4 linked regions of the Homo sapiens genome follow. The protein of the gene in region 4 interacts with the protein of the main gene of each other region in a biochemical or structural test. Each region holds a gene or a part of one and is shown on either strand. Other genes may lie near its edges. The genes, in order: GTF2E1, GTF2F1, GTF2A1 and TBP.

Evidence for each region.
Region 1: the proteins of TBP (region 4) and GTF2E1 form a complex in vitro, tested with the Homo sapiens proteins (3 studies listed by BioGRID).
Region 2: the proteins of TBP (region 4) and GTF2F1 form a complex in vitro, tested with the Homo sapiens proteins (3 studies listed by BioGRID, with this or other methods).
Region 3: the proteins of TBP (region 4) and GTF2A1 form a complex in vitro, tested with the Homo sapiens proteins (7 studies listed by BioGRID and IntAct, with this or other methods).

What each region holds. Positions count from the first base shown.
Region 1 is NC_000003.12:120,745,728-120,752,760, forward strand, and holds part of GTF2E1 (general transcription factor IIE subunit 1), read left to right. Parts: intron 1-4,795; 5' UTR 4,796-4,825; coding exon 4,826-5,273; intron 5,274-7,033.
Region 2 is NC_000019.10:6,379,050-6,383,175, forward strand, and holds the end of GTF2F1 (general transcription factor IIF subunit 1), read right to left. Parts: intron 2,802-4,126; coding exon 2,648-2,801; intron 2,567-2,647; coding exon 2,505-2,566; intron 2,430-2,504; coding exon 2,310-2,429; intron 2,147-2,309; coding exon 2,073-2,146; intron 1,994-2,072; coding exon 1,855-1,993; intron 1,642-1,854; coding exon 1,524-1,641; intron 1,437-1,523; coding exon 1,232-1,436; 3' UTR 523-1,231; downstream 1-522. UniProt on the Homo sapiens protein: TFIIF is a general transcription initiation factor that binds to RNA polymerase II and helps to recruit it to the initiation complex in collaboration with TFIIB. It promotes transcription elongation.
Region 3 is NC_000014.9:81,217,935-81,225,539, reverse strand, and holds the start of GTF2A1 (transcription initiation factor IIA subunit 1), read left to right. Parts: upstream 1-4,580; 5' UTR 4,581-5,021; coding exon 5,022-5,051; intron 5,052-7,605. UniProt on the Homo sapiens protein: TFIIA is a component of the transcription machinery of RNA polymerase II and plays an important role in transcriptional activation. TFIIA in a complex with TBP mediates transcriptional activity.
Region 4 is NC_000006.12:170,557,369-170,564,401, forward strand, and holds part of TBP (TATA-box-binding protein), read left to right. Parts: intron 1-4,422; coding exon 4,423-4,865; intron 4,866-7,033. UniProt on the Homo sapiens protein: The TFIID basal transcription factor complex plays a major role in the initiation of RNA polymerase II (Pol II)-dependent transcription.

The sequences.
Region 1 (7,033 bases), on a different chromosome or scaffold from region 4:
CTGAAGCCATATGTTGTGTTCTGACAACTGTTGAGGATGTAAAACAACAAAAAATGAAAACGGGGTTCAAGTACAATGTATAGACCAAACCGAAAAGGAGAGAAAAGTGTGTCCAGTAGTATGCTGTGGTACTACTTTGGTGTCGAGCCCAGGTACTTCCCAGGCATCCTTAAGCCCTGGGGTAGCAGGAAGGCTCTAAGTTCACAGATTTGGATCTAGGTGCTACTTTGTTATATCTTACAATATGTAGTCATACCTGAGTATTTATAACCTAAAGTACGTATTTTCTTTTGACTGACTTTTACTTTTCCTTTATTACAGGAAGGGCCTTATATTTTCCCCCCAAAATATATGCATAGATTGGTTATAGATTGGTGTATAGAGTTTCCTTATAGTATGGTACTGTGGATATAAAAATATTTCTTATAAAAAGAGTATTAAATCTGTTGGGTTGATAACCACTGATTTCAAATAAAAGGGTTAGTTGAAACTAGTATTAATAACAGAATATGATTCTCCATTGAAATAGTTCAATGGGATGTCTCTCTTAAAAATTATCCTGTGGAGCCTGGCTAAGATGGTGAAACCCTGTCTCTACTAAAAATTCAAAAATTAGACAGGCGTGGTGGTGCATGCCTATAGTCCCAGCAACTCAGGAGGCTGAGGCAGGAGGATTGCTTGAACCTGTGAGGCAGAAGTTGCAGTGAGCCGAGCTTGCGCCACTGCACTCCAGCCTAGGTGACAGATCGAGACCCTGTCTCCAAAAAAAAAAAAAATTATCCTGTGGGCTGGGTGTGGTGGCTCACATCTGTAATCCCAGCACTTTAGGAAGCCCCCAAGGTAGGTGGATCCCTTGAGCCCAGAAGTTCGAGACCAGCCTGGGCAAAATGGTGAAACCCTGTCACTACAAAAAACACAAAAATTAGTCAGTCATGGTGGTGTCCACCCGTAGTCTCAGCTACTGGGGAGTTTGAGGTGGGAAGATTGCTTGAGCCCAGGAGGTTGAGACTGCACTGAGCCAAGTCACACCACCGAACTCTAGTCTGGACAACAGAGCAAGACACTCTCTCTATGAAAAGAAAAACAAATTCCCTGTGGCCTAGGGAAATTTAACTTGATTTAATCTGTGTGGATAGTCTAGCCATTTTTAGTTTGGAACATGTTAAGTTGATATGGAAGCTGTCCTTCCTAAGCACTTTAATTATATTCTTATTAATCACAACAACTCCACTGAGGTAGTTGATACTATCCTTACTTCTTAGCGAGTAAAAGGTGGCTTGAAATTGTTTAAGGGATTTGCTCAGGATTACACAGTTACCAAAACACAGGCTGTGTACTCTGAATTTCAAAGCCCAGTTTTGTGTTGTTTTGTTTTTTTGTTTTGTTTTTTTTTGAGACTGAGTTTCGCTCTTGTTGCCCAGGCTGGAGTGCAATGGTGTAATCTTGGCTCACAGCAACCTCCACCTCCCGAAGCCCAGGTTTTTATTTTATTTTATTTTATTTTTTATTTTTATTATTTTTATTTTATTATTATTATACTTTAAGTTTTAGGGTACATGTGCACAATGTGCAGGTTAGTTACATATGTATACATGTGCCATGTTGGTGTGCTGCACCCATTAACTCGTAATTTAACATTAGGTATATCTCCTAATGCTATCCCTCCCCGCTCCCTCCTCCCCACAATAGGCCCCAGTGTGTGATGTTCGCCTTCCTGTGTCCATGTGTTCTCATTGTTCAATTCCCACCTATGAGTGAGATATATGCGGTGTTTGGTTTTTTGTTCTTGCGATAGTTTACTGAGAATGATGGTTTCCAATTTCATCCATGTCCCTACAAAGGACATGAACTCATCCTTTTTTATGGCTGCATAGTATTCCATGGTGTATATGTGCCACATTTTTTAATCCAGTCTATCCTTGTTGGACATTTGGGTTGGTTCCCAGTCTTTGCTATTGTGAGTAGTCCCGCAGTAAACATACGTGTGCATGTGTCTCTATAACAGCATGATTTATAGTCCTTTGGGTATATACCCAGTAATGGGATGGCTGGGTCAAATGGTATTTCTAGTTCTAGATCCCTGAGGAATCGCCACACTGACTTCCACAAGGGTTGAACTAGTTTATAGTCCCAACAACAGTGTAAAAGTCTGTTCCTATTTCTCCACATCCTCTCCAGCACCTGTTGTTTCCTGACTTTTTAATGATTGCCATTCTAACTGGTGTGAGATGGTATCTCATTGTGGTTTTGATTTGCATTTCTCTGATGGCCAGTGATGGTGAGCATTTTTTCATGTGTTTTTTGGCTGCATAAATGTCTTCTTTTGAGAAGTGTCTGTTCATGTCCTTCGCCCACTTTTTGATGGGGTTGTTTGTTTTTTTCTTGTAAATTTGTTTGAGTTCGTTATAGATTCTGGTTATTAGCCCTTTGTCAGATGAAAAGGTTGCAAAAATTTTCTCCCATTCTGTAGGTTGCCTGTTCACTCTGATGGTAGTTTCTTTTGCTGTGCAGAAGCTCTTTAGTTTAATTAGATCCCATTTGTCAATTTTGGCTTTTGTTGCCATTGCTTTTGGTGTTTTAGACATGAAGTCCTTGCCCATGCCTATGTCCTGAATGGTAATGCCTAGGTTTTCTTCTAGGGTTTTTATGGTTTTAGGTCTAACATTTAAGTCTTTAACCCGTCTTGAATTAATTTTTGTAAAAGGTGTAAGGAAGGGATCCAGTTTCAGCTTTCTCCATGTGGCTAGCCAGTTTTCCCAGCACCATTTATTAAATAGGGAATCCTTTCCCCATTGCTTGTTTTTCTCAGGTTTGTCAAAGATCAGATAGTTGTAGATATGCAGCGTTATTTCTGAGGGCTCTGTTGTGTTCCATTGGTCTATATCTCTGTTTTGGTACCAGTACCATGCTGTTTTGGTTACTGTAGCCTTGTAGTATAGTTTGAAGTCAGGTAGCGTGATGCCTCCAGCTTTGTCCTTTTGGCTTAGGATTGACTTGGCAGTGTGGGCTCTTTTTTGGTTCCATATGAACTTTAAAGTAGTTTTTTCCAATTCTGTGAAGAAAGTCATTGGTAGCTTCATGGGGATGGCATTGAATCTATAAATTACCTTGGGCAGTATGGCCATTTTCACGATATTGATTCTTCCTACCCATGAGCATGGAATGTTCTTCCATTTGTTTGTATCCTCTTTAAGTTCATTGAGCAGTGGTTTGTAGTTGTCCTTGAAGAGGTCCTTCACATCCCTTGTAAGTTGGATTCCTAGGTATTTTATTCTCTTTGAAGCAATTGTGAATGGGAGTTCACTCATGATTTGGCTCTCTTTTTGTCTGTTATTGGTGTATAAGAATGCTTGTGATTTTTGTACATTGATTTTGTGTCCTGAGACTTTTTGCTGAAGTTGCTTATCAGTTTAAGGAGATTTTGGGCTGAGACAATGGGGTTTTCTAGATATACAATCATGTCATCTGCAAACAGAGACAATTTGACTTCCTCTTTTCCTAATTGAATACCCTTTATTTCCTTCTCCTGCCTGATTGCCCTGGCCAGAACTTCCAACACTATGTTGAATAGGAGTGGTAAGAGAGGGCATCCCTGTCTTGTGCCAGTTTTCAAAGGGAATGCTTCCAGGTTTTGCCCATTCAGTATGATATTGGCTGTGGGTTTGTCATAGATAGCTCTTATTATTTTGAGATACGTCCCATCAATACCTAACTTATTGAGAGTTTTTAGCATGAAGAGTTGTTGAATTTTGTCAAAGGCCTTTTCTGCATCTATTGAGATAATCATGTGGTTTTTGTCTTTGGTTCTGTTTATATGCTGGATTACATTTATTGATTTGCGTATATTGAACCAGCCTTGCATCCCAGGGATGAAGCCCACTTGATCATGGTGGATAATAAGCTTTTTGATGTGCTGCTGGATTCGGTTTGCCAGTATTTTATTGAGGATTTTTGCATCAATGTTCATCAAGGATATTGGTCTAAAATTCTCCTTTTTGGTTGTGTCTCTGCCCGAAGCCCAGGTTTTTAAAGTAAACTATATGCCAATGTGGGCTTTGAGAAGACAGCTTTCTGGGTCATGGTACGGAAATGAGATACACTTAGTTTCTGCTTTGTCAAGGGATCCAGTATTTAAGAATATTTTGGGCTGCTCTCCCTCCCTCATTTTCTACCTTTTTAAGGACTGGATGGTCTTTCCTTGATTATCAGATTCAATTTTTCAAGGTTGGTAAAACTGTCTGGATCTAAGTATTACTTTCTTTCAGTTTTACAACAGTTAATGATTTTGTCAAACACCCCAGGTGGTGATTACTCATGTGTTTATTGGTTTGTTGTGATTTTATTGTGAAAGCATGACTATGTAAAACATCCTAGAATCTTGGTAGAAAAATTTTACTCAAGAAAGGAAACAAAGACACTTTTAGGAAATGCGAACTGCTAGTTTTCTCAGGGTTTCCAGCATTCCCAAAGAATAGTGAGCATTTCATGTAGCTTTTTTTGTGTTTCTCTTCTGAAGTAAAGTAGACTTGACGTAATATATTGTTTTATAAATAAAAAGTTACTTTTTAATCAAACACACTATAGATCATAAAAGTAGCCATTTAAGAAATATGTAAAGCTTTTTGGGTGTAATCTTTTGTGCATTCTAGAGGAAAATCTTGTTCTGCTCTGTTAAATGCTTAGGTATTAGAAATCTTTTTAAACACTTTGGGTACTTTTCTGGCACTGCAAGGATAGTGGATATGATTACCATGTTCTTATACCTGGCTAATTTTCTGTTTTTTTTTGAATTCAGTATATTTAAAGTTGGAGTTCGTTGCTAAAGATGGCAGACCCAGATGTCCTCACTGAAGTTCCAGCAGCATTGAAGCGGTTAGCCAAGTATGTGATCCGGGGATTTTATGGCATTGAGCATGCCTTGGCCTTGGACATCTTGATCAGGAACTCCTGTGTGAAAGAGGAGGATATGCTGGAGCTGCTCAAGTTTGATCGGAAGCAACTTCGATCAGTTTTGAATAATTTAAAGGGAGACAAGTTTATCAAATGCAGAATGAGGGTAGAGACTGCTGCAGACGGGAAAACCACTCGCCATAACTACTACTTCATCAATTATCGTACTCTTGTTAATGTGGTAAAATATAAACTGGACCACATGAGAAGAAGAATTGAGACCGATGAGAGAGATTCGACCAACCGGGCTTCCTTCAAATGTCCTGTCTGTAGTAGTACTTTCACAGACTTAGAAGCTAATCAGCTCTTTGATCCTATGACAGGTGAGGTTTATCCAGTTTGTGAATCTTTAAAATAAAGTGTGTATTACCTTTTTTCTTAAATTGATTCATCTAATTTTTAAACCATCATATATATTATTATAAAAGTGAATGGATCAGTGTAAATCACAGCATACAGTCAGTCTTACTGTCCTGTTTGGCTGTCGCACTACTTTGAGAAGCCTTTGCAAAGCGTTTCTCCTTTACAAGGGAGTTTCTCACTTATGGCCCTCCTGCCTCTGCCCACCCCACCTTGTTTACAACTGCAGCCTAATCTGAAGGGTTGATTTCTCTACCACTTTGAGGCTGTTCTAATTTTATTTTTGACCTCTAGACAGTTGCAATACAGTGTATTTAAATGCTTTGTTAGTGGAAGTAGAAAGTGGTATCAGGAGTATATAACTAGGGCATATAATCTGGATTTGGGGAAGGCCTCTGGAAGAAGTTAACATTTGAGACCTAAAAGATAGTAAGAGTTAGCTAGATGAAATAAGAGGGGAATTCTTTCCAAGATAAGACATTTAGTGTCCTTTAGATACACATTATTGTTGGAAGAAAATTGTCAACAAGATATATAATTGGCCTGATTTGATTGAATAGTTTTAAGGATTTTTCATAACACAATTTAGAAAGCATGCATTATCTGAAAATACAATATGTCTAGCATAAACATGAGAAACTTTAAAGTTCTGAGTTATATAGTTATTTTATCTTGTTATCTGTTTACACAATAAAAAAGAGACTAGTTTTGCTAAATACTCGATCAATTTTGTCTTATTTTCTACAGGTAAAAATCTATAGAAGGACTCAGTGCTATTAAATTAGATTAAGTCCCTTTGTTATGGTTGAATTCAGGAGTATAGGCTACTTTTTAGTTCATAGATCTGCTTTTTTAAAAACTTCGTCTGAAAGTTTAAACTTTGACCCATGAAATATTTGGTTGTGCAAAATTACAGATTTCTGTGTATGTTTTATTTTCTAATTTTTATGTTATATATGGTACATTTTAAATAATTAAAAAAAATTTTTAAGTGGGAAATAACCCCAATATAAATTAAGATTATTGACAAAAAGAGCCAGAAGCAATCTGTGACCTTTTTTTCTTATTTACTGTGAGGCAATGATTTTGGATGAAAACTGATTTAAGGAATTCACAATTGTATTAAACATTTAATTTGTCTGAGCCGAGCTTTTTACCTTGAAAGGGCTCCACAAGGAGAGATCTTGATTATAAGAAAGTCTTAACCATCCTCGGTATGAGAATTGCTTGAGTGTTCTATAGAGGAAGGTTGTAGAATATATCTGGAGCTCTTCAAAATAGACTAGAAAAGTCTCATGATTCTTGCCATTCACTCTAACAGATTTCTTACAGGAGCTCTGGGTTCTTGGTTTTGTAATTCTCTACAGATGTTGGTTTTAACAGTGGAGGCTTCATCACTCTTGACCACAGTAGAAGGTGTTATCCAGTCCCTTAGAGTAATCTAAAATAACATGCTTCTACTACATTTATTTGTCATTTGAGTCATATTAATTTAATTAAACTTTCTAAAAGGAGATGATTCCACTACTTATATATCAGTATTTGGGAGACTGATCATGATACTCTTGAATTTCACCTGGATTCTGAATGAAACTAGTTGACTCAATAGATGGCCTGTGGAAGAGATGGCCTAACATTCCATCCAGTACAGTCAAGGTGACTTGAATCAAGGAGTTAGGGTAGAGGGCATGAAAGTATTTTATGAAATAAAGCTAAAACTGAA
Region 2 (4,126 bases), on a different chromosome or scaffold from region 4:
GGGAGGCTGAGGCAGGAGAACTGCTTGAGCCCAGGAACCAGAGGTCGCAGTAAGCCGAGATTGTACCACTGCACTCTAGCCTGGGCAACAAGAGTGAAACTCTGTCTCAAACAAAAACAAAAACAAAACACATTAGCCAGGCATTTAATGGTACACGCCTGTGGTCCCAGCTACTCAGGAGGCTGAGGTGGGAGGATTGCTTGAGCCCATGAGTTCAAGACTGACCTGGGCAATACAGTGAGACCTCACCTCTACAAAAAATTAAAAAATTAGCTGGGCGTGGTGGTGTGCACTACTTGAAAGGTTAAGGTGGGAGGATCGCTTCAGCCCAAGAGGTGGAGGTTGCAGGGAGCCAAGACGGTGGACACTGCAATCCAGCCTGGTGAACAGAGCAAGACCCTGTCTCAAAACCTAAAATATAAATAAAAATAAAACCATGAAAGATGGGACCAAAACATAAGGAATAAGACATTATCCAAACAGAGTAGCAGATCTAAAAAGGAAACAAAGAAATCTGAGCAATTTATTATTATTTTTTATTTATTGAGACAGAGTCTCACTGTCACCCAGGCTGGAGTGCAGTGGCGTGGTGTCAGCTCACAGCAACCTCCACCTCCCAGGTTCAAGTGAATCTCGTGCCTCAGCCTACGGAACAGCTGGGACAACAGGCTCCCGCCACCATGCCTGGCTACTTTTTTTTTTTTTTTGTGCCAGGATTTCATTCTGTCACCCAGGCTGGAATGCAGTGGCACCATCATAGTTCACTGCAGCCTTGAACTGGGCTTAGCCTCCCAAGTAGCTGGGACTGCAGGCGCTCACCATCATGCCCAGCCAAAACTGAAGACTTACTGGGCTATGTGGTGGATAAGTCACAGCTGAAGAGAGACTTAGGGAAGTGGAAGGGAGAACTGTAGAAGTTACCCAGTGGGCAGCACAGGCCCTTGGTCAGTGTGAGGGAGGCCGAGCCAGGAGGAGGAGGACAATAAGAAGGCCTAACAGGCATCTGAAGATTCCAGAAGGAAGGGCCAGAGGAGGAGATGGCTTAACTTTTCCAGAATTGCTAACTACGGGGCCCTGGGAGTCAGGGAGCAAGCAGGATGTCGAAGGGTCACTGAGAGCCTGAAGTTCTGGAGGGCAGAGCCATGTATTGGACAGAGCCTCACTCTAGGATGGCGAAGGGGCAGTGAGAGCCTTAAGTTCTGGGGGGCAGAGCCATGTATTGGACCAAGCCTCACTCCTTGAGGGAGAAGTGCATTTTGTCGTTGATCATCTTGCGCTCGGGGTTGAGTCGCTTGAGGATCTGGGCCAACACGTTCACTGTCTGCTCGCTGCTCAGCCCTGTCTTCTTGGTCTGGAACTTTTTCAGCAGGTCCTTAGTGGTCATGGGCTTCCGTGTCAGGTAGCGGCGCACGGCATCCTCAGTCACCTGCACGTCGCTGAGGATGGGAGGACGGGGAAGGTGGCATCAGTGAGATTGTCCCCAGTAGCCCTTGCCCTGCCCCCTGCTGTCCTCGTCAACTTACCCGCTGTTGGGTGTTGTCTTGCCTGATGGTGGCTGGGGTGTCGACTTCCCAGACAGGCTCTGGGGTCCCGTGTCCAGCCGCAACCGCTTGGCTGCAGGCATCTCGCTCACCCGCTTCCCTGTGGGAGTGGGGTCAGGGCTGAGTCTTGCAGGCAGGAGGCAGAACCCCTGGGCAGGACCCCAGGCTGGGCAGTGCCAGGATTAGGGTTCAAGGGGATCAGGGAGAGACAGGCCTCCACCCGCATCTCCATCCCCTCTCTGTCCTGAGCCCCAACAGAGGTCAGGAGGCTGTGGCTGTGGCTGTGGGGAGCGGGGAGGCCACGGGCACTCACCTTGCTCGAGTTTGCTGGCAGCCGCCCGCAGGGTGGAGGAGGTGCTGCCACCCTCTGCGCTGGGCGTGCCTGGGCGGCTGTTGCCCCTTGAGCTCCCTCCCGACGGCTTCCGCTCTCTCTTGGGTGGCGTCTTCTTCTTCTGCAGAGGTCAGGGTTGGGAGGTGGGTGAGTCTGCAAACAGACGCCCAGGCCTCCCCCGCCACCGGGCTGGGCCTTACCGCCATGAAGAGGGCTGAGGAGGCCTCGCTGTCAATGTCGCTCTCCTCTGAGCTGTCCGACTCCTCGCTGCTGTCTGCGGGGCACAGGAAAGGGGTCAGGGCCAGAGCAACCCCGGGACCCGGTGCCCACTGGTGCCTCCACTGCAGATGAGGGAGGCCTGCAGGGGAGAGGGGAGGAGGTGGCAGGGCGCCAGGGCCCGACCCAAGCCTCCAATATGGGGGCCACATGCGCCGCACCTTTCCTGCGCTTCTTCTCCTGCGGGGTGGGTGCCTTCTTCTCCTCCTCCTCCTCCTTGTCCTCCTCAGGCGGCTTCTCCTCCTCACTCTCCTCACTACTGTCGCTCTGCTCATCGACACCTGGGAGGGGCAGGGTATGAGCAAGAGCAGGGAAGCACCGCCCCCATCTCCCCGGCCCGCCCAGCCATCGCCTACCCTTGGGCCCCTCCTCCTGCTGCGGCGCCTTGGCCTTGCTCTCAGGCTCTTCTTGGGAGCTACTGTAAGACGGGGATGGCAAAGGATGAGCGCGCGCTCGCGAGGCTGCATGGGGTCTCGCAGGCGCCTCCCGTCGGCCTCACCTGGAGCCGTCTGACATGTAGTCCACCTCTTGGCCCTCGAAGTCCCCATCATCGCTGTCCTCGAAGGCCTCGTCGTCTGAACCCTTCTTCTTCTTCTTTTTCCTGCCGCCCTTGGCCAGCGGCGCCTTCTTCTTGGCCTTGGGGACTCTGCCCCCTGGGAAGGGAGGAAAGGAAGGAAAGGAGGGAAAGTGAGGAGGAAGGCAGTGGGTATTTATTGTGTTTTTCACATTTTGTGCAGTTTTGACATCCTGGGGGGCCTCACTGACTGGGGAGACTACACCTCCAGGGCCAGCCCAGGAGCTCAGCTCTCCTAAACAAACTCCCGGCAGACCCCACACCCCCACCCACCTTCTCTAGCGCTCACAGACCACTCCCCCTCTCCCAGACCACCCGGGCGAGGCACCTGATAACCAGGGACACAGCCCCTACAGCCCGGAGCGCACAGGAGTTATTGAAACTGGTCAACCTAGAGTTGCAGTTTCTCATAGGAACCCCCGTAAAGGCCACAGCCAGGCCAGGTGCAGTGGCTCATGCCTGTCATCCCAGCACTTTGGCAGGCTGAGGCGGGAGGATGGCTTGAGCCCAGGAGTTTCAGACCATCCTGGGCAACACAGTGAGTGAGACCCCAGTCTCTACAAAAAACACAAAAATTAGGCCGGGCGTGGTGGCTCACGCCTGTAATCCCAGCACTTTAGGAGGCCGAGACAGGCAGATTACCTGAGGTCGGGAGTTTGAGACCAGTCTGGCCAACATGGTGAAACCCCATCTCTACTAAAAATACAAAAATTAGCCAGCATGGTGGTGCATGCCTGTAGTCCCAGCTACTTGGGAGGCTGAGGCAGGAGAATCACTTGAACCTGGGAGGCAGAGGTTGCAGTGAGCCGAGATTGCGCCATTGCACTCCAGCCTGGGCAACAGAGCAAGACTCTGTCTCCAAAAAAAAAAAAAAAAATTAGCCGGGTGTGGTGGTGCACGCCTGTAGTCCCAGCTACTCAGGAGGCTGAGGTGGGAGGATCGTTTGACCCTCGGAGGTCAAGGCTGCAGTAAGCTGTGATTGTACCACTACACTCCAGCCCATGTGAGAGAGAGAGAGATCCTGTCTCAAAAAAAAAAAAAAAAAAAAGAAGGGCCATGGCTCAGCTCTCCCGGGCTCTGGCCTTGCCTCCTGACTGACATCACTGCTCCTCCAGGCGGCCTCGCCTGACTCTCATTCTTTTTTCTCTGAGACGGAGTCTCTCTCTGTTGCCCAGGCTGGAGTCCAGTGGCGTGATCTCGGCTCAACACAACCTCTATCTCACGGGTTCAAGCAATTCTCCTGCCTCAGTCTCCCGAGTAGCTGGCACTAGAGGCATGCACCACCATGCCCAGCTAATTTTTGTGTTTTCAGTAGAGACACGGTCTCACTGTGTTGGCCAGGCTGGTCTCAAACTCCTGATCTCAGGTGATCTGCCTGCCTCAGCCTCTCAAAGTGCTGGGATG
Region 3 (7,605 bases), on a different chromosome or scaffold from region 4:
TGTGAGGCTGGGATGCTGTTAGATATTCACCACTTGAGTTATCAAAATTTGGCTGAGTTTCTTGTAAAGTAAGCATTGGCCACTGACATCATTATTTAAAAAAAAATTTTTTTTTTGAGACAGGGTCTCGCTCTGTCACCCAGGCTGGAGTACAGTGGTGCAATCTTGGCTCACTGCAGCCTCTGGGTTCAAGTGATTCTCGTGCCTCAGCCTCCTGAGTAGTTGGGATTACAAGTAGGCACCAGCATACCCAGCTAATTTTTGTATTTTTAGTAGAGATGGGTTTTCACCATGCTGGCCAGGCTGGTCTCAAACTTCTGACCTCAAGTGATCCACCCACCTCAGCCTCCCAAAGTGCTGGGATTACAGACCTGAGCCACCACTCCCAGCTGTTGTTGTTTTTTTGAGACAGAGTGTGTCTCCAGCTCTGGTGCCCAGGCACGATCTTGGCTCACTGCAACCTTTGCCTCTCATGCCTCAGCCTCCCAAGTAGCTGGGATTACAGGCACATGCCACCATACCTGGCTAATTTTTAGCAGTTTTAGTAGACACAGGGTTTCGCCATGTTGGCCAGGCTGGTCTTGAACTCCTGGCCTCAAGTGATCTGCCTGTCTCAGCCTCCCAAAGTGCTAGGATTACAGGCATGAACCACAACATGCAGCCATCATGATTAAAATGTAATGGTAGTGTTCTACAAAGTGATTTAAGAACATCTTTCCCCAGCTTTGATGATATTGGTGTAGCTGTTACAGTTACCATTAATAATAAAACACCCACCAAATACTTGTCAAAGCACTTCCTACTACCTTTGATTTTCCAACAACGATAGGTGGTGGTGATTATTTCACCTTATTGACACAGAATCATGGCACAATGTCACACAGGAATTTAGTGGCAAGAGTCAAACCTGATTCCACCAAAACTCCACACTAAGTTAATTTACTTTTGCTAAAAACTACAAACTGGTCTACACTTTGTTCTACAGAAAATAACTTAGAGCTGGTTGGTGTTTTAAGACATGAAGTAGCAATTTCAAACTAAGTTACAACAGACAAAGATAATTTAAAAAGATTTTAAAAAATCTCTTCATCACATGTATAGAACTAATTTGTATGGTCAGCAATTTCTTATAGCCACCATCAAAAATTTGTGCATGTGAAAATCGGCAGTTTCTTTGAAAATGACAAAAACATAGGTGAAATCTGAATGCAGTATAATTTTTTTTGGTAGGACTGAAATATGTATGCTTTCAACAGCTTAAATGAATGCTATGACTATGCACTACACTTTAAAACAGGGACTTTCATTAAGATTGGTAAACTTGCTTGGCACGGCGGCTTACGCCTGTAATCCCAGCACTTTGGGAGGCCGAGGCAGGTGGATCATCTGAGGTCAGGAGTTTGAAACCAGCCTGGCCAACAATGGTGAAACCCCGTCTCTACCAAAATTACAAAAATTAGCTGGGCGTGGTGGTGTGAGTCTGTAATCCCAGCTACTTGGAAAGCTGAGGCAGGAGAATAGCTTGAACCCACGAGGCAGAGGCTGCGGTAAGCCGAGATCGCACCACTGCATGCCAGTCTGGATGACAGAGCAAGAGTCTGTCTCAAAAAAAAAAAAAAAAAAAAAGAAGGAAAGAAAAAAAATGATTAGTAAGCTCAAGGCATCTTTCTTCTTCAATTCTGTATCCTCCCAAAGTGCCCAATACATACTGAGCATACATACATACATACATACAAAGTGCCCAATACACACTGAGCATACATACATACAAAGTGCCCAATACATACTGAGCATACATACATACATACATACAAAGTGCCCAATACATACTGAGCACTAGGGCCTAAATATGCCTCAAAACTAGTTTTGTTTTTTTTCTTTCTTCACTATTTAAGAAAATGGAGTTTGCTGGGAAGTCACAAGATTTTAGTTTAAGCCAATTTCCACAATCTTTTTAGACTCTTCTCTTTCTTGGCATTGTTGCTAAAATAGTCATTTGGACAGTAAAATATTTAAATGTTTGGACACAGAAGGTTTGCTGTCATTTTGTTGATGGTGTAGCAAAATTTATACATCGATTTTTTTTCCCTTTTCTTCTCTTGTTTTACAGTTATCTAGTGTTTAGGCTGCATATTAAAAGAAAGACGCAACATTTTAACTCCCAGTATAAATCATTTTGAAGTTAAAAAAAACACATAAACATTCATCACAAGGAGAGTACTATTATGTATCTATCTAAGTACATAGCTGCTACAAAGTGTAAGATCACAAACAGCAAATCCTGTATAAATGTTTTATATAGTAGAAAGAGCTGTTAAAGTTAGAAACGTCATTCAAGCTGTAGGAGACCAAGAATAAAAAGTTCAGATAGAAACAATTTAAATATGATGCTAAATGTAATCTTACTTGGGAGAAGTTTTCTCTCACAAATTTTGTTTTGTGAATTAAAGGGCTGCAGCTTCCAAGTATTCAGTCCTACAATTTTGGTATAACAGAAAATATTTCTTTCCGAAACTAAACTGGATGGCACACATATGTTGCAATGAAGGCATATAACAGCTATTGAGGGACTGGAAAACCAATATATTGGAATGGAATCCATGATGGCTAGATGCCAGACACACAAGCAATCTAAGTTCCTGGGTAAATATTAACCAAGTGCTTAGGTCTTGTTGCAATCTAGGTGTAAAGAGAGAAGCCAACTCAGAGCCTCCAGGGAGTCTGATGGTCTTAAGGAGGCCAAGACTAGGTTTTCTGCCATTTTAATCCAGTAACTACAATCCATTATTTCACAGATTAATTCTGTGAAGAGCAAACCTCGTAGCTTTTCTTCCCTGTCCTGTCTGCAGTGGTTTTAACTTTAATTGATGGCGAAACTACTCAACCTTTTAGTCAAGAATATCAATAGTAGGGGGGAAAACTAGGTGGAAGGTGAGGGATTCCATGTGCAAAGCGTTTGGGAGTATGTAATAGGGAGGTAACAAGAAGTCCTCTCAATATGTAGTAAAACTTAACAGGAATGGTATTGTTTAGTGTAAATTTTCGGGCTGTCACCTGAATATTAAATGAATTACAAATGTTGATAGAATCATAACTTTATATAATATACCAAGAACACTGATTTCCTGTGATTTTTTTCTTTAAGTGTCCCAGACCATGCAGCTGTGCAGGAAACTGGGAAGCAACTGTTAACAGGGGAATGGACTTGGCGTGAAAAGAAATGTCAAGGTTCATAGATATCCTCTACACCCATTCACAATCTCCCATTTTCTGAGTATTCAAGGCCTCTGGTTTCTCTAATCCCTTTCTTCAAGTCTTGGCAAGATGCATTTTTTTTCCTCTTTGGTAAGACGCCTTTGATATTCTTCAAATCTGGTTTCACCAGCACAGAACTTTGACGTTTCGTTTTGCTTTGTCTCTGGAAGACAAACTCCCTCACTCATCCACGCGACATTTCAAGTCCCTCAAAATTCCCAGGGACAAGAAAACTAGGTACTATGAATTCTGCCTTCCAAACAGCATTCTCTGTTCTGCTTGCAAGGTCGATATAAAGGCAGGATTTGCTTGGGCAGAACAAGTCAAAAGCTTATTGAATTGCACTTATTGAATTGAACATGGAACACAGCCGGCTTGCTCTCTTATAGCGAGAGGCCATGCGAGTTGGTGGGTCAAGGGCATGCATTTCAAAGTGATCAGTCACTATACGTTGGCCACATGGAGTCGCAGTATTTTGGCAATATTTTTAAAAACCAGGGAAAGTTACTGTGCTGTTACAATCCAAAGGCTGGTGGGGTTTTCTTCCACCCCGCATTTCCACTAGCGTGATAAATTATTTAAAGTACGTGGCCTAGTAGAGGACTAACCTCTGGGTAACATAAGCCTAGTCTTCGCAGCGTACCCACTGTGGAAACAAACGAATCAGACGTTACTAATTGTGGAATGTTAAAAGTAGGCCCCGATCGGCTTTTACTCCCTTTGGAAAATCCTACACAATTCTGCGCGCGAAAGACCCACCCTCGGTGAGGCGGTGAGGCGCGAACGCCGCGAAGCTCACAGTCAAAGCCTCGCTGACAAATCAAGAGATGACTCCGCATTTAAAACCTTCCCGAATAGGAACGCGCCAGAGGCCGGAAGCCACGCCACGTGACCAGTCCTCCTCCGCGGCCATTCCTAGCGAGGCAGTAGGCACCGCCTCTGTCACATTTCCTAGCTCCTAAAGCGCGGGACCAGGCGGAAACGTGCGACAGGAGGCGGTCCCACCTAGCTTTGGACTGGAGTGTCAGTAGAACTCCCGTCTTTTCCAGCAACGCTTTGCAAGTTCTTCACCGCAAAGAACTGCCGCAGACTTCCGCCTGGGTGCCAACCACGTGATCACGCGAGCGTTGGAGAGGCGTAGGTCCGATTTCACTACTTCACTCCCCGGGCTCCGCCAGTCCAGTACCCGCCACGGCGCGTGACAACGCGGCTCGCCGGCGGCCTCCGCCCCGGCGCGCCTGCGCACGCGGCTCTCGCGGTGTCTCGCGCTCAGCCCCGCCCACCTCTGCCCCCGCCCTTTCCGCCCCTCCCTCCCCCTTCACCCTGTCTCTCGGCGGCGGCGGCGGCGGCGGTGGTGGCTCGCGCAGCTTGTTGGCTCGCTATATAAAGGAGAGAAGCGGGCGGACCGGACGGCTGGAGCTGCAGCCGGTGGCGGCAGCGGCGGCGCAGGGAGCGGTGACCGGTGGTGGTTTCCCTCCTTGGCGCGGGGTGGGGAGCGGGCAACGCCCCCCGGACCCCTGAAGGGTCGTGGCTTTTTTTTTTTTTTTAAGGCGATTCTCGAGGTTTTCAGCTGCGGGAGGAGTGCCCCCCTCCTCCTCCTCTCTCCGCTCTCCCCTACTCCTTCAGGATTGATTTTGTTTAAAATTTTTTCCCCAATCTTGCGGTGATTTGGGTCACCCTCCGGGTGTTATAGTTTTTTTTTTTTTGGTTTTGTTTTTATCTTGTTTTCTTGGGGTTGCCCCCTCTTGTTTGTGTTGTGTGTGGAAATGGCGAACTCGGCAAATACAAACACCGTGGTAAGGACGTGGTTCGGTGGCCGGCGGGGGCTTCGTTCAGGCTGCAGCAACGGCCGGACCGGGCGGGGGCGGGGACGGCGGCGACTCCCGGCCTCGACTCTTCAGCCGCCCGCGCGGCCGCCGCCGCCGCCGCTTCCCGCCTCGGGCGGATCGGGCCGGAGCGCCGGGCGGCGGGCGCGGGGGGGCGCCGAGGGCTCGCGGCGCGGGGAGGGCGGGGGCGCCGGTGGGGCCTGGGGCCGCCGCGGGCCGGGCCGGGCCGCGGAGGCGGTTGGGCCCGGTCGGGCGCGCAGCCCCGGCCCCAGAACCCGGCCGCCGGGAGGGAGGGCGGGAGGGGAGCCGCCGCTTCCCCCCGAGGGGCCCGTCCGCGCTGGCTTGACGAGGGCTCCCCGAGTGGCTACAGAACAAAAACTGTGTGTGGGGAATCGGGCGAACCCCCGAGACCCATCGTGATCCACTTTAATGCAGTGGAAGATTAATGGTTACTTTGGGGGTTTCTTAGGTTGTTTTTGGCGGCTGTGCTTTGGGAACCTTCTCTGAGGCCATTTTATGTTTAAAAAAAGGACGAAGGTTGGTTGAAAAGCACTTATCTCAGTTCCTTCCGAATGGGTAAAATGGCGAAGGGGAAGACCCCCATCGTATCTTCGCCTAGCAGAAGCACCAAAACAAACAAAAAAAGCCTGCAGTGGTCCAAGTGTCCCCGCTTTCGCCTTGAAATTTACCTACTTCTTCCCGTTGGTCCCTTTTTGTTACTTGCGATCACGTAGGTTTGCAAAAAGCAGTCACATAAATAACCTTTTCAGTCACCAACGCAGTGTGATCACTAGTCCACCCAACTCTTATTTTTATGATGACAATAAAACACGTTTTTTGCCCGGTCCCAAATGCCGCAGACCAGCCCGCGGCCGCCCGACACCGTACCGTTGGCGACTCGGGTCTAACCATCATGGCTGCGGCCGCTTACCCTGCTTTTCAGTCCCTGAGCCTTGTGGTCCTCCTCCCTTTGGCTGCCCTGTTTATATAGAGCCATTGCCGCTCTCTAATATAGACTCTGCCAGGATGGGAAGGTGCTTTTCAGGCCTACGTCACCGCCTCTCCATTTAAACACCAGATCCGGCTTTAAATAGTGAGAGCTGCTGAGAGCGGGGCTGGGAGGTGCGTGCTCCCGAGGCAAGAGCCAGGCGTGTGCAGAGCTCAGTTTATTTCTAGGTCCTTTTTTCACCCTGTGATTTCGCACCCGTCGCGGGCTGCTTTCAGAGCCCCAAGTTTTGGTTTTGTTCCCAGCAGCAGCTAGGATTTGCCTTCTTTGTTTGCTAGGGGGAATATATCCGAATCGCTGTCCCTTTTTGTTTACAATTTTCAAAATTAATTATTTAAAACAAAGAGTTTTAGATCAGATGGTCTAGCCATTTTTCTTATGTGCATTATTTTCGGGAATTTAAAAAACTGCTTTCTACATGGAAAATGTTAGCTGCAGAGGACTTGGTTTTGGTAGTGTTTTGTTCAAGTATTCAGGAAATAATGTTAGAAATATAGCTCCTAATATTTCATTATGTTTTCCTATAGTAAATATAAAAGACACGAGGCTTTTCAGAGAAATAGATAAGTACCTAAAGCTTCAGTATAGGACCATTTATGTGTAGGAGAATCGTGAGTAGAGGGAAGAGACAGACTGCAAACTAGATTAAAAAAAAATCTAAGTAGAACTTTATTGCCTTGGATATTAACATGGGTATCCGGTATAAAAATTATTCCAATTTATTTTCCAGCATTGCATCAGGGAATTAACATTTTTGAAGGAAACCTAACAAATGACTTAATAATGCCACTAGTGGCCCTCTGATTTACCAGTTCTTAAGTTTGAAATAACCTGTTTTTTAAAAATTAGGACAAACTTAAATTGTATTTCGTGAAAGAAACTTTGCCTCAAGTATTAGTGTAGAATTTTAAGCAATAATTTAGAAATTGCTTATTTCAAATACTCCTATGTGCCCACATACTTTTCAAAAATTAGTATCTTGAAGGCTTTTCAAATTGTGAACAATTCTGCTAAATTACTCGTTAGGCATATATTTTGTGAAGAATACACATTTCCCTTCCTTCACCTATAGGGCTTATGAAGCTGTTAAGTGGTCAAGTTGTGAGTTCATTAAGGCACAAAAATAAAATCTTAATGATTTATTAAGTTGAGAGTACTAGAAGAAAGCAGATTTATACCTACACATGTCTGGATCTCCAAGCAAAAGGTTTTTAGAGGTAACTGACTTCAGAAACGCCAAAACACCATCTAGTTTACTGAAAAGCATACATATTGTCAATTTGAGATTTATACTCCCAATTTAAAATACATTGCCCTCCTAACGCCTCGAGGAGTAATTATTGGTTAAAAAAAAAAAAGCACTTTATAGAGATACTTTTGTAATTCAGTTAAGTCACTTTAGGCAAGATGATGTCCATAGTCAGATATACTTTCCTTATATATAGAATTAGAATGTTAAAGTAGGGACTATAGAAATGTGCATTTTACAGATGAATAAACTTCAAGAGGCGGATTTGG
Region 4 (7,033 bases):
CCCTCACCAAATTATTTTCTAGTTTTATTTTTCCCCTTTTACATTTCAAGCTCTCAACCACCCATCTACTTTAAAAATTTTTCAGCCTGGGTGCAGTGGCTCACGCCTGTAATCCCAGCACTTTGGGAGGCCAAGGTGGGCGGATCACCTGAGGTCAGGAGTTCGAGACCAGCCTGGCCAACGTGGTGAAACCTCATCTCTACAAAATATACAAAAATTAGCCAGGTGTTGTGGCGGGTGCCTGTAATCCCAGCTACTCGGGAGGCTGAGGCAAGGAGAATTGCTTGAACCCGGGAGGTGGAGGTTGCAGTGAGCAGAGGTCGTGCCACTGCACTCCAGCCTGGGAGACAGAGCGAGACTCTGTCTCAAAAAAAAAAAAAAAAAAAAAAAAATCAATAACTTTTGTTGAAATATACATACAAAAAAACTCATTTTAAGTGTCTGTTTTGATAATTATATATAATGTATAAATTACAGAACATTTCAGTTACCTTAAAAAGTCCCTTCTTCCCCTTTATAGTCACTCTGCTGGCCCCAGGTAACTACTGCATCTGCTTTTCAATGCTGAAGATTAGTTTTGTCTATTCTAGAATTTCATATAGATGGAATCAGAGTGTATGCTTTTTTGTGTATGTCTGACTTCTTAGCCCAGTGTACTGTTTGTATATCAGTAGTTAATCCATTGTATAGCTAAGTATCACTCCATTGTTTGGATGTTCCACAGTTCATCCATTCTCCAGTTGCTCACATTTGGGGTCTTTCCAGTTTGGAGCTATTGCGAATAAAAGCACTGTAAACATTTGTGTAGACTTTGAATGCACTGTTTTTACTTCTCATGGGTAAATACTTAGGAGTAGGATTGCTAGGTCCTATATTGGTATATGTATAACTTTATAAGAAACTGCCAAACTGTTTTTTGAAGTGGCTGTATTGTTTTGCAGCATAAGAGATTTAAGTTGCTCCACATCCTCACCAACACTTTCTGCTGTCAGTCTTTTTACTTTCACTCTAGTGATTGCTTAGTAGTATCTTATTGTGGTTTTGATTTTTATTTGCCTGATTACTAATGTTTCTGAGCACCTTGGCAAGTGCTTGTCAGCCACTCATACACAGGCCCACCTCACTTTACTGCACTTCACTTTACTGCATGTTTGACAAATTGAAGGTTGTGGTAAACCTGTACCCAGCAAGTCTGTTGGCATTATTTTTCCAAAAGTGTGTACTCACTTCATGTCTTGGGGTTAGATTTTGGTAATTTTTGCAGGATTTCAAACTTTTTCATTATTATCCGTTATTGTTATCAAACTTTTTTTTTTCTTTTTTTTTGTATTTTTTTTTTAATTTTTTTTTTCAGTCACTCTGTTGCCCAGGCTGGAGTGCAGTGGTGCAGTCTTGGCTCACTGCAAACTCCATCTCCCGTGTTCAAGCGATTCTCCTGCCTCAGCCTCCCAAGTAGCTGGGATTACAGGCATGCGCCACCACACCCAGCTAAATTTTGTATTTTTAGTGGAGACGGAGTTTCACCATGCTGGTGTCAAACTACTGGCTGCAAGTGATCCATCCGCCTTGGCCTCCCAAAGTGTTGGGATTACAGGCATGAGCCACTGTGCCTAGTCAAACCTTTTCATTATTATCTGTTATTGTGATCAGTGATCTTTGATGTTACTATTGTAATTATTATTGAATGCCATAAACTGCACCTGTATAATACAGGAACTTAATTGATAAATGTCTGCAGCGTGACCAACCATTCCCCCATCTCTCTCCCTCTGCTTGGTCTTCCCTATTCCTTGAGACACAACAATATGGAAATTAGGCTAATTAATAACCTTACAGTGACTTTTAATTAAGTGTTCAGATGAAGGGAAGAGCTGCACATCTCTCATTTGAAACCAAAAGCTATAAATGATTATACTTAGTGAAGAAGGCATGTTGAAAGCTGAGACAGGCTAAAAGCTAGGCCTCTTGCACCAAATAGTTAGCCAAGTTGTGAATGCAAGGGAAAAGTTCTTAAAGGAAATTAGAAGTGCTACTCCAGTAAACCCACAAGTGATAAGAAAGCAAAACAGCCTTATTGCTTATATGGAGAAAGTTTGAATGGTCTGGATAGAAGATCATACCACCCACACATCCCCTTAAGCCAAAGTGTAATACAGAGCAAGGCCTTAACTCTCTTCAATTCTGTAAAGGCTGAGAGCGGAGAGGAAGCTGTAGAAGAAAGTTTTGAAACTAGCAGAGGTTTATTCAGAGCTTTAAGGAGAGAGGCCTTCTCCACAACATAAAAATGCAACATGAAGCAGCAAGTTATCTGGAAGATCTAGCTGAGATAATTGATGAAGGTGACTATACTAAATAATAGATTTTTAATGTAGATGAAACAGCCTTCTACTGGAAGAAGATGCTATCTAGGACTTTTATAGCTAGAGAGGAGAAATCAGTGCCTAGCCTCAAAGCTTCAGAGGACTGGCTGACTAGTTAGGGGCTAATAGAGCTGGTGAGTTTAAATTGAAGCCAATGCTCATGTTCTGCTCTAAAACCATAGAGCCTTAAGAATTACGCTAAATCTACTCTGCCTGTCCTCAGTAAACAGAACAACAAAACCTGATGAGAGCACGTCTGTTTACAGCATGATTTACTGGATATTTTAAGCTCTTTGAGATCTGCTCAGAAAAAAAGTTTAATTTCAAAATATTACTCACTGACAGTGTAACTAGTTGTCCACAAGCTCTGATGGAGAAGAACAAGGAGATTAATATTGTTTTCATGCCTGCTTAAATAATATATCCATTCTTCAGCCCATGGATCAAGGAGTAATTTCAACTTTCAATTCTTACTATTTAAGAAATACAGCAGGGCATGGTGGCTCATGCTTGTAATCTCAGTACTTTGGGAGGCCAAGGTGGAAGGATCACTCAAAGCTAGGAGCTCAAGACCAACCTGGGTAACAAAACAAGTCCCTGTTGCTACAAAAAAAAATTTTTTTTTAATTAGCTGGTCATGGTGGCATGTGCCTGTAGTCCCAGCTACTTGGGAGGCTGAGGCGGGAGGGTCACTTGAGTCCAGAAGTTAAAGGCTACAATGGAGACCCTGTCTCAAAGAAAGGAAGCAGGGAGGGACATATGCTGTAGCTGCCATAGATAGTGATTCCTCTGATGAATCTGGGCAAAGTGAATTGAAAACCTTCTGAAAAAGATTCACCATTCTAGATGCCATTAAGAATGTTCATGATTCATGGGAGGAGGGTGAAATATCAACATGAATAAGAGTTTGGAAGAGGTTGATTCCAACCCTCGTGGATGACTTTGAGAGGTTCTAGACTTCAGTGCTGGAAGTTACTGCAGGTGTAGTGGAAATAGCAAGTGAACTAGAATTAGAAGTGAACCTGAAGATGTGACTGAATTGCTGCAATTTTTTGATAAAACCTGAACAGATGAGGAGTTGCTTCTTGTGAGTAAGCAAAGAAAGTGGTTTCTTGAGATAGAATTGACTCCTGGTGAAGAACTGATGACTTTAGAATATTACATAAACTTAGTTGATAAAGCAGCAGCAGGGTTTGAGAGGATTGACTCCAATTTTGAAATAAGTTCTAGTGTGGGTAAAATGCTGTCAAATAGTATCATATGCTACAGAGACATCTTCAGTGAAAGGAAGAGTCAGTCAGTGTGGCAAACTTCGTCAGTCTTATTTTAAGAAATTGCCACAGCTACCACCCTGATCAGTCAGCAGCCATCAACATCGAGGCAAGATCCTCTGTCAGCAAAAAGATTATGATTTGCTGCAGGCTCACATGATTGTTAGCATTTTTAGCAATAAAGCATTTTTAAATTAAGTTATATACATATTATTAGACATAATGCTATTGCACACTTAATAGACTTTAGTGCTAACATAACTTTTGTAGGCACTGGGAAACCAAAAAATTGATGCCGCTTGCTTTATTGAGATGGTCTGGAACCTAACCTGTAGTATCTCCGAGGTATGCCTGTATCTTCATTTGTAATATGTCCTTCACATCTTTTGCCCTTTTTTATTATTTTATTTGTTGATCTTCTTTTATGGAGTTGTCAGAGCTCTTTATTATTCTGTTTACCAGTCCTTTCTCAGATGTATGTATTATAGTTATTTTTTTCCCAGTCTGGCCTGCCTTTTAATTTTCTCAATGGTGTCTTTCAAAGAACAGAAGTTTTTAATTTTTCCGAAGTTCAGTTTATCCATTTTTCTTCATGTTTATCCACTGTGTGGTATTAAAGAAGAAAGCAATGTGTATAAGAATAGCTGGTTCTTCCGTAATTAATGTTTAATAACCCCATTATTCTCCGAAGGCATCTGTCTTTGCACACCTGACCTGCTGTTCCACCAAGAAAGTTCCACAAACACTTAGCAGCAGCCAGCCTAACCTGTTTTTCTCCTTGCTTTCCACAGGGTGCCATGACTCCCGGAATCCCTATCTTTAGTCCAATGATGCCTTATGGCACTGGACTGACCCCACAGCCTATTCAGAACACCAATAGTCTGTCTATTTTGGAAGAGCAACAAAGGCAGCAGCAGCAACAACAACAGCAGCAGCAGCAGCAGCAGCAGCAACAGCAACAGCAGCAGCAGCAGCAGCAGCAGCAGCAGCAGCAGCAGCAGCAGCAGCAGCAGCAGCAACAGGCAGTGGCAGCTGCAGCCGTTCAGCAGTCAACGTCCCAGCAGGCAACACAGGGAACCTCAGGCCAGGCACCACAGCTCTTCCACTCACAGACTCTCACAACTGCACCCTTGCCGGGCACCACTCCACTGTATCCCTCCCCCATGACTCCCATGACCCCCATCACTCCTGCCACGCCAGCTTCGGAGAGTTCTGGGATTGTACCGCAGCTGCAGTGAGTACTTCGTGTTTTATGTTTCCTCCCACTTAGGAGTCCCTTTGAGTTATGTTCCTGCTCTGTTTTCAGATGGATCCTTTTATTAAGGGAGGGAGTGGCACTAACGGTAATTGTGTATCAAAATTTGCTTTATCTCACATTTGGGAAAGGGAAGCAAAGCTATCTTAGTCAGTGTCCTCAGTAAAAGGCTCTTAACAGGTTTAGAAATGTGGTCATTTGTGTTTACATACCTGAGCCAATAAAATTTAATCTGACTTTCACTGTCGTTATTATTATATTATAGACATTTCCCTGTATCTGATATCGCTAAATCACAATGTTAGGTAGTCTCTTTCCCTTATGCTATTTTAGGTCTTTAGTCACAATATCAGTATAATTTCTGGTAGTTCTTGTTTTTTGTTTTTACTATGGGTGCTGCATATAAATCTTTGAAGGTCTGTGTCCTTCCCACAAAATGAAGACGACTGTTTTTGTCATAAATGGATTTTTCTACCTAAATGAAGTGGGTTCTATATGTAACAGTGTAGTAGGGGTAGGAAATAATTTCATCTTCCTGAAAAACCAGCAAATATTTCCAAATAATTCCAGTCAATAAGAAGTGTATAGCTTTTCATTTTAGAAAGCTTATGACCAAATTAAAAGGTTACTTGCAGTCTCTGCATCTCCTCAGTTTTCTTGTACAGATACCTTCCTCCTTCATACTCCCTTTAGATCTAGTATTTCCTATTTGCATTTATTCACCTTGTTACATATATGGTTGTTGTTTATAAGCTATCTCTCATCATTTTTGGAACTAAGTGGTGTGTAATCGTGGATGCTGACTTTCACCCAAAGACCTAAATCTTGCCTCCACAATTTTGTTTGACCCCACACACAATTTTAAAAACAAAGTAATTTTAGTGATTTTAGAGAGAGCCCTTTTTAGCTCACCCTTGTCTATACCACTCCCATGTGTCCAGCATGCTTGTCTGACTCCCAGGAATATTTAAGTTTGCATTTCTGATTTAAATAATAAATTATAAACAGTACAGTCAGGTGTTTGTTTCTTGCGAGTGCCTTTGCTGTTCTGATACTCCCCAGAGCATCCAGTCATCCACATTCCTGAATTTCCACTATCTACTAAGAACCCTCCCGGGTGGTAGTTCAGTGCCCTCTCCATCTTGTAGGCTTAAGAGGGATTAAGGTAAATATTTAATTAATGAAAATATATAAGAATACATTTAACAATTATGTGACTAAAGTTGTGATAGATATACTAAAATCTACTTGGTATAGTTCATAAGTGGACAAATGCTAAAGGCAGGTGTGTATACAAGGGTGATTGGAAGGAAATAGATGATATGGAAATGAAAACATTCATTGTGTGGATCAACCTAATTGGCTTTACAGTTGTGTATCATAGACTGTACAAGAAAAAGAACCAGAAGCAACAATGAGCTGAAACCTATTGTATTTGAACCTATGTATTTGAAATCTGGACTCGATATTCTTGGGATGGTGATTTCCAGGTCCATGCGAGACAGTTGTTGAGCAGTTAATTGCATTCAAAGGGCATTGCCCATTTCAACTATATATACTTTCATAAGCAGAAAAATGTATAATGAAAATGTGGGTTTGTTGTTTAAATTTTTATTAAAATTTCTAATAGAGTTGCTTTTTAGTATATCTTTATCCTTGTATAAGTTATTCGTTAAGTGATTTAAGAACACTGAGAAATGAAAAGGGTCAGTGGACCCAGATGGCTCCATTTATCCTTATTTACTGAGAGTTAATTAGAAGAGAAAGCAGGGTTTTGCCTTTTTTTTTTGCTAAAGACACTTAGCTCTTGTTTTTCAAAAGATACTTACTTTGAGAGAACTGGGCAGTTCATGCCTGCTTGTTTTCATTATAAATAGTTACTTAGGAATAGGGTGGTGGTGGTAGCTTTTCAGAGCTCACAGATGAGAATTGAGTTTGTCTGTGAGAAGGCTAAGGGCAGGCTCTGGAGACAGACAGACTCAAATCCTGGCTCCTCCACTTGGGAGCCATTGCGTCCTGAGCAAGTTGCACTCTACCTTTAAGCCTCAGCTTATTTATCCAAATGTGGGAATACTGGTAACTTCTACCTCAGTGCGTTATATGTATTAAATGGAATAATCTATATAAAATGCTCAACATGTGCATGA